2 separate regions of the Homo sapiens genome follow, and region 1 is linked to region 2. The links come from fine-mapping of genetic effects on gene expression. A gene starts in region 2. The other region holds a variant in brackets. All regions are shown on one strand. Distances are between the middles of the regions.

What was found. PIP is the estimated chance that this variant, and not a neighbour inherited with it, causes the effect.
Region 1: its variant is fine-mapped to the expression of DUSP18 in fibroblasts (GTEx, PIP above 0.99).

The regions. Positions count from the first base shown.
Region 1 is chr22:30,715,100-30,719,099 of GRCh38, forward strand. All of the region lies in intron 1 of OSBP2 (oxysterol binding protein 2), which reads left to right. Among named protein-coding and RNA genes, the nearest start is that of MIR3200, 14 kb to the right of the region's middle. RefSeq lists an enhancer at 1,749-2,948. The variant G/A (reference allele first, on the strand shown) is at 2,347.
Region 2 is chr22:30,665,637-30,670,159 of GRCh38, forward strand. It overlaps DUSP18 (dual specificity phosphatase 18), which reads right to left and starts at 2,239. Exons shown (of 2, transcript NM_152511.5): 1 at 1,826-2,239. It also overlaps a transcript of SLC35E4 not described here. RefSeq lists an enhancer at 2,337-2,726.

The sequences.
Region 1 (4,000 bases), 49 kb after region 2:
TTGCTCAGGTTAGCCTGGAACTCCTGGGCTCAAGGAATCCTCTCTCCTCATCCTCCCAAAGTGCTGAGATTACAGGCATGGGCTACTGTGCTTGGCCCAACAATGTTTCTTAAAGGTTCCAGTTTCTCTACGTCCTTGCCAATGATTTATTTTCTGTTTTTGTTTTGTTTTGTTTTTGATAGTAGCCATCCTAATGGATGTGAGATGGTATCTATTGTGGTTTTGATTTGCATTTCTGTGATGATAAGTGATGAGCATCTCTCTCTCTCTTTTTTTTTTTTTGGCCAGGGAGGAGGGGACAGAGTCTTGCTTCATTGTCCAGGCTGGAGTGTAGTGGCATGATCATGGCTCACTGCAGCCCCAACCTCTGGGGCTCAAGTGATCCTCCCACCTCAGCCTCCTGAGTAGCTGGGAATACAGGTGTGCACACCACCACACATGGCTAATTTTTAGATTTTTTTTTTTTTTTGAGGTGGAGTTTCACTCTTGTTGCCCAGGCTGGAGTGCAATGGCGCCATCTCGGCTCACTGCAACCTCTGCCTCCTGGGTTCAAGCGATTCTCCTGCCTCAGCCTCCCAGGTAGCTGTGATTGATTACAGGTGCCTGCCACCATGTCCAGTTAATTTTTTGTGTTTTTAGTAGAGACGGGGTTTCAACATGTTGGCCAGGCTGGTCTTGAACTCCTGACCGCAGGCGACCTTCCCACCTTGGCCTCCCAAAGTGCTGGGATTATAAGCATGAGCCACCACACCTAACCTTTTTTTTTTTTTTTTTTTAACACAGGATCTTGCAGTGTTATCCAAGCTGGTCTCGAATTCCTGGGCTCAAGTGATCCTCCCACCTCAGCCTCCCAAAGTATCCCACCTCAGCCTCCCGAAGTATCGGGATTACAGGCCTGTGCCACCATGCCCAACCACAAGCATCTTTTCTTTCTTTCTTTCTTTCTTTTTTTTTTTTTTGAGACAGAATCTCGCTCTTGTCGCCCAGGCTGGAGTGCAATGGCATGGTCTCGGCTCACTGCAACCTCCACCTCCTGGGTTCAAGTGATTCTTCTGCCTCAGCCTCCTGAGTAGCTGTGATTACAGGTGCCTGCCACCACACCCAGCTAATTTTTGTACTTTTAGTAGAGATGGGGTTTTGCCATGTTGGCCAGGCTGGTCTTGAACTCCTGACCTCAGGTGATCTGCCTGTTTCAGCCTCCCAAAGTGCTGGGACTACAGGCATAAGCCACCACACCTGGCTGAGCATCTTTTCATATGCTTGTTGATCGTTTGTATAACATCTTTAGAGAAATGTCTGTTCAAATCCTTTTTTTGTTTGTTTGTTTTTTTGTTTTGTTTTGTTTTTTGTTTTTTTGAGACAGAGTCTCACATGGTTGCCCGGGCTGGAGTGCAATGGCTCAATCTCGGCTCACTGCAACCTCCGCCTCCCAGGTTCAAGCAATTCTCCTGCCTCAGCCTTCTGAGTAGCTGGGATTACAGGTGCCCACCACCACGCCTGGCTAATTTTTTGTATTTTTGTAGAGATGGGATTTCACCATGTTGGCCAGGCTGGTCTCGAACTCCTGACCTCAAGTGATCTGCCCGCCTCAGCTTCCCAAAATGCTGGGATTACAGGTGTGAGCCACCATGCCTAGCCCCTTTGCTCATTTTTTAATCATTTATTTGATTTTTGTTGTTGAGTTGTAGAAGTTCTTCTTACATTCTAGACATTAACCCACTGTCAGATATATGATTAGCAAATATTTTCTCCTATTCCATAAGTTTCCTTTTTACTTTGTTGATTGTGTCCTTCAAGGAACTTAAGTTGTGTCCTTCGATGGAGTCCCATTTGTCTGTTTTTGCTTTTGTTGCCTGTGCTTTTGGTGTCATATCCAAGAAATCATTGCCAAATCCAATGTCATGAAACTTTATGCCTATGGTTTTCTCTAGGAGTTGTACAGATGTTACATTTAGGCATTTAAATCTATTTTGTTTTAATTTTACTGTTTTTGTGTGTGTGTGTGTGTGTGTGTGTGTGTGTGTGTGTGTGTGTAGAGACAGGGTCTCGCTATGTTGCTCAGGCTGATCTTGAACTCCTGGCCTCAAGTGATTCTCCTACCTCAGCCTCCCAAGTAGCTGGGATTATAGGCAAGAGCCACTGCACCTTGCTGGGTCTTTAATCCATTTTGAGTTAATTTTTGCATATGGTGTGAGATAAGGGTCTAACTTCATTCTTTTGCACAAGGACATCCAGTTTTTTCAACATCATTTGTTGAAGAGACTGTCCTTTCCCCCACTGAGTCATCTTGGCATCCTTGCCAAAGATCATTTGACACAGGGAAAAAATCAAGGCCTTTTGAAAAAC[G/A]CCTACACTAAGGGGAAATGACACATGTTTTACTGTCCAGCTGCAGCTGTGCCATCCAGGACCAGATGGGAAGTTACATCCAGGAAAGTGGACCTCTAGAGTCCCTTCTCACATCTCTAGGCTTTGCTCACTAGCTATAAAGCCCTGTACTTACAAAAAGAATGATTGCCATAGCCTGTAAGAAAGCAGATGGAAGTCAAAAGCAGATCCTTAGGTTGATGACAAAGATTGCTGGTTGAGACTCTTATTTTGACACTTAGAGTCTCCTTATTCATCTTCTATTCATCTCAAATATGTGCCAACATGACTCCCCCTCAGGACTGGCCTCATCTCTGCCTCTCCAGCATCATCATCTCCTGCTGATCCCTTGCTCTACTCTGACACCTCAGTGACAATGGGTTGTGTGTGCATTCTGACAGGCGAGGGTGGGCGGGAGTTAGAATCGAGTCCTCAGCTCACCTGTCCTCCTGGATCAAGCAACTTCAAAACACATTGCCCAGTGGTGATTTAAACTCTGAGGTTAAAGCAGCAGTGGTTTTCTCTTGCTTGAGGGTCCGCAGATGACCAGGCCAGGTCTCCTTCAGGCAGTGGCACTTGGGAGTAAGCTAGGAGGTGTGTCTTCCTGTTGTGATGGCAGAAGTACAGGAGGGTAATCGAGAGTCACAGCATCCCAGCTTGAGCCTGCACACCCTCACTCCATTCCACATTCCATTGGCTGAATCAAGGCATGTGGCCCTGTCCAATATCAGTAGGGTGGGAAGATATCCATTCCCCATTTTAGAGGATCCTACAAAGTCCAGTGGCAAAAGTTGTGCACTTAAAATTGTAGTTCAGGGATGGCAGAAAGAAACAGGAGAAATGCTTCAGTCTGTCACAGCCTCTAACCTCCCTTCTAACGATCACATCCTTTAGCCTCTTTATCTATAGAGTGAGAGGACTAGGCTAGGTGATGTCTGGGGTTCTTTCTATCCTTACCTTTCTGAAAATTTGATGGGAAACCATCTGGAAGGAGGAGGAGGAGAGATGAGATATAAAAGATGACCTGTATGCTTGGCACTGGGCTTGGCACATCAAAGGACTCGGGAAATGTCTGTTGACTTAATGGCTTGGAGATCTGAGTCCAGGAGGCCAGGAATCTGGTGACTGACCTGGTAGGGAAAGAATGGGGGATGCTTTAGCTGGGCCTCAGGTGTTCACTGGCCTTCCTGCCCCTGGGGCCACAGGCCCTGGGCACTGCTGTTGGAGTTGCAACTTTACAACTTCGGAGTTGCAGTGACAACATCCGGGTGCTTGTCTCCCCCTTTTTTTTCCCCCTGCCAGTACTAACAGATTTGTTGCAGAAATGGCCTGGGCCCTTGCTCCTGAGCCCTGGGGCAGCATGGGAACAGGGCTGATGGTGTGTTCTGGTTCTCAGACTTGGGAGCCTTGCGGGCAGACTGAGTGGGGACTTTTTGCTGAGTTGTTCATGCACTGTGACAAGAAAGGCACCTTCTTTGAATTTTTTATTTTCAGAAAATAAAATTATTTTGCTAGATACAGGCATGGAAGCAATTTTCTTCTTTTGAATCCTGCAGTTCTTCTGAGTTTGAATTTATCTGTCAGCTTACTGAGCCTTTGCCTTCTAGAGACGGGATTAGAGTGTTCTTAACCTTGA
Region 2 (4,523 bases):
CCCTATGTTCTCTCCTTCCTAACACTTACTGAAGACGTAGTTTTGCTCCGATCTGTCTGATTATTTGATTAATGTCTGTCTCCCCAAGAGACTGTGAGCCCTTTAGGGATATGATGGTGTCTGTCTTCACTCCCACTCTATCACCAACTAGTGCCAAGCGCTGTGTCCCCACAAGTAGGTGCTTGATAAATATTTGTTGAATGAAGAAATGACTCCCAACAGCTATGACTCTGCCTTCTGAGAGGTTTTCTGGAAAGAATGAGTTCTCTGGCAGCGTGTCTCCAGAATTCCAGGGAGGGGCTGGGTGGGGATGGGGGTGGTTCTGAGGCTACTAAAGAGAAAGACCAAAGGTTGTATAGGCAAATCCTACCTGCCAATGCCCCAGACTCAAATGCATCAGGCTCATTCCCGGAAGGACAGAGAGGGCTGGCTTGCTACAGAGGTGATATGAAGGGCAAAGAAAAAGCCTCCTGAACCCAGATGGAAGTCTAAATGCTAAGGAATGTTCTGGATCCTCGTCATCAGAAAATCCATAGAGAAGTGAACTGATGTCCCCCCAAACCAGTGCCCAGTGGGTAACGGGAATAGAGGAATGTGCTGTTCATTATAGCCACTAAAAGTCTGCAGAAGTGACAATGCTCTTGCAGGTGAGGGTAGTGATGCGAGGAGTCATTTTCATGCTAGTTAAGAAATATCTATCAGGGCTGGGCACGGTGGCTTAAGCCTATAATCCCAGCACTTTGGAAGGCCGAGGCGGGCAGATCACCTGAGGTCAGGAGTTCAAGACCAGCCTGACCAACATGGTGAAACCCCCGTCTCTACTAAAAATACAAAAATTAGCCAGGCGTGGTGGCATGGGCCTGTAGTCCCAGCTACTCAGGAGGCTGAGACGGGAGAATTGCTTGAACCCGGGAGGCGGAGGCTGCAGTGAGCCAAGATCGTGCCACTGCACTCCAGCCTGGGAGACAGCGTGAGACTCCATCTCAAAAAAAAAAAAAAAAAAAAAAAAAGCAATCTCTATCAGGCACTGTATTAGGTGTTGGAGATACTGAAATGTACAAGACAGGCATGGCCCCTTTTCTCAGGGAGCTCAAAGACTAGTGGGAGAAACAGATAGTAAACAGGCAATTACAGGCAGACAGAGCTTGAAAATAGGATAACAGTACCTACCTTAAAAGGATGTTGTGAAATTAAACGAGATAATCCACGTAAAGAGTTTTCTCAGGGCTTGGCATAGAGTAAGCCCTCTCAAAATGATAACTATTTTTCTCGCTTCTGATAGGGAAGTTAAAATGCAGGGCTCTGTGAAAGGGAAGTGTAAAAAAGATTTCTTCCAGGTCGGAGCCTAGGGAGTCGCAAAGACCACCTGAAGAAATCACAAAAGATCTAAAGAACGTTTAGCTTGAGAGGGAGGAGGAGAAAAAAATAGCAACTCGGTAGCAGTTCAGCTTCACCACTTTACAGCCTATGAAGTATTTGGCTTCCCTCATCTGGTTCGATCTTCAAAGCAACCTAATCAGACCGGCGTCTAGAGTTAATATTTCCATTTTACAAAAGAGGAAAGTGAGACACAGCGCGGAAAAGGACTTGTTCAGAACGAGTCATAAAGCAAAGAAGCCGACCTTTATGGTCCATTATGTGTGGGAAAAATGAACAAACACCGCGGGGCGTTCGTGAAATACTAAGTTATAAACATGGAACAAAGTCCAAGAGTTAACGAGAGCGAAGCATCACTTCTAGGGGTGGGCCGGGTAGGTTTCCTAGGGGAGCTGGCATTGGAATAGGCTTCTTCGCCTGCTTAGTGTCAGGACCCCCAGGGTTTTACCTCTCTCCTTCAGGCGGGTGGGCGGGTTCGCTCAGGAAGTAGCCGCTTGGGGAAGCCTTAGGCAAGGTTCTTCGGGAGAGAGACCCGTCATGATCCCGCAGCCTCAATCCCCGCTGGCCTAACGCTTTGGTTTCCATAGCAATGGGCTCGTCGCAGAAAGGAATAGCCTGTGCCGGGTCTTCAGAGAAATCCTGGCCTCGGCTCCACGCCCCTGAGCAGCCCCACCCTGGCTCAACCTGTTACCCGCCCTGCCGGCAAGCCGGGGTCACTGCAGTCCCCGTGGCGAAGCAGGGTCAGCTCAGCTCACCGCACCCCACTCCATCCAGCCCTGCCCATCTCTACGGCAACGGGCCGGGTCGCACCAGGGCTGCAGCCGAGAGACAGTCTCACCGCTTCCGTAGCCGCCCGGGCTCTGTGCGCATGTGCGACACTCCCTCCCCGGCCCCGCCCCCTTATGCGTCTCCCAGGCAACGCGCCGCGCGGGGCTCCAGGTTCCGCCCAGGGACTAACTCCAGGTCTGCGCGCGTCCAACGAGCACGGCTCTCAACCGGCCTCCTGGCGCCCAACGACCATGGCTTCCAACCGGCCTCCGTGCGCCCAACGACCATGACTCCCAACCGGCCTCCAGTTTCCAACTGTTTCTCGAACAGGGAAGCCGCCATGACACAGCTGACTACGCCCTTGGTCACAGGGGACCTGAGATCCTCCACGATTTACGGGACCGGCGCCACCTCGGGCTCGAACCACCCTCTCGATAGGGCCGCCGCTAAGTAATCGGCGTAGGGGTTCAGCCGCACATCTCCTTCCCGCGCCGCGGACCGAGCAGTCGTTGGTGCTCTTCAGGTGCGGCCTGGGTGCCCAGAGCCTTCGTTAGACTCTCGGACCCGCAAGGGAGCCCGAACTCTTTCAGACTCGCTCTCCCTCAGCCGGACCTCGGCCCTTTTTCACACCCCAGGGGAGTCTGGATTTCTCATAGTCCTGGGCACCAGCCCCTTCCCAGTCTAGCTCTTGGGACTCCCTGAAGCCGGAACTCCCTCGCCTGGACTCCCGGGAGAACCTGGAATCCCCATCTCCAGTCCACATTTTCTCAGAATCTGTCCTAGCCCTTCAGTCTCCCAGGCATGACATCGTGTGGTCCCAGCGCCCTAGGTGGTGAGCTGTGACTCTCCTTAGAGCCTGGCGAGGCCGAGGTCCTCCCCAGCTCGAACCCATCCCACACTCCCCTTCTCAGCCTCTGTGTTCCCCAGTGGTCCTGGAAAAGCCCCCAGTTCCCTCTGCCTGGCCCCAATCCTCACAAACCCAATTACCCACGCTCCTTTCCATTCCATAACCCCCATCACTGCATCCTCCAGGCTCCCATCCATGGAGGACTTGAGGTGGAAAGCAATTTGGTTCAAAATAACCATTATTTATTACTTGAAAGGGAATATTTCCAGTCGTTGCCAGCCTCCTCCCCTTCTAGTATTGGTAAATTTTTTGCACCACTGAGTGGGTGAAGAGTTTTATGCGTCTTTAAATGTTTTAAGGATTTTTTTAAAAAAACAAAAAACTCTCAGGATTTGGGGGACTTTTGTGTTTGAGCATCTTGATCTCTAAACCAGCTTTTTCCATCACCTCACACCTAGGCTATGCATAGAGGTCAGAAAAATGTAAATGAGAGATTGAGAAGTTGGATTGTTCATACTAGTTTGTAAATATGAAAACATTCACAACACTCCAGTTCCAAATAGGCTGAAAATGCATTAGAAAAACTAGTCCTTCAATATTTTTTATCCTTCTACAGTTGTCTTTTTTGACCCAATTATAAAAGTAGTGTACACTTATAGAAAAATGAGGACAGGCATGGTGGCTCACGCTTGTATTCCCACCACTTCACTTTGAAACGCTGAGGCAGTTGGATCACCTGAGCTCAGGAGTTCGAGACCAGCCTGGGCAACAGGGTGAAACCCCATCTCTACCAAAAATACAAAAAATTAGCCGGGCTTGGTGGCTCACCTGTGGTCCCAGTTACTCAGGAGGCTGAGGTGGGAGGATCACTTGAGCCTGGGATGTGGAGGTTGCAGTGAGCTGAGATTGTGCCACTACTCTCCAACCTGGGGGACAGAGTGAGACCCCGTCTCGAAGAAATAAAAAGAAGACAAGACAGGCCAGCAGCATAAGTGGCTAGGGACAATCACTGTTAACATTTTGGTGTATTTTGATCAGAATCCATTCATATATATATATATATATATATATATATATGTTACAACATGCTTATACTTAAAAAAGATACATCACAAAAGTTCACTTTTTAGTAACCTGCTTTTTTCTCCCATCTAATATACCACCCGTCTATGTTTCATACACAATTACATGTATTTTATTTTATGACATACCAAAATTTATTCAATTGCTTCCATACTGTAGATTTTGTTTCCGCATTTTAGAAAGAAAATATGAACAATTTTTTTTTTGAGACAGAGTCTAGCTCTGTGGCCCAGGCCCGAGTGCAGTGGCACAGTCTTGGCTCACTGCAACCTCTGCCTCCTGGGTTCCAGTGATTCTCCTGCCTTAGCCTCCTGATTAGCTGGGATTACAGGTGCTCACCACTACACCCGGCTAATTTTTGTATTTTTAGTAGAGATGGGGTTTCACCATGTTGGCCAGGCTGGTCTCGAACTCCTGACCTCAAGTGATCTGCCCACCTTGGCCTCCC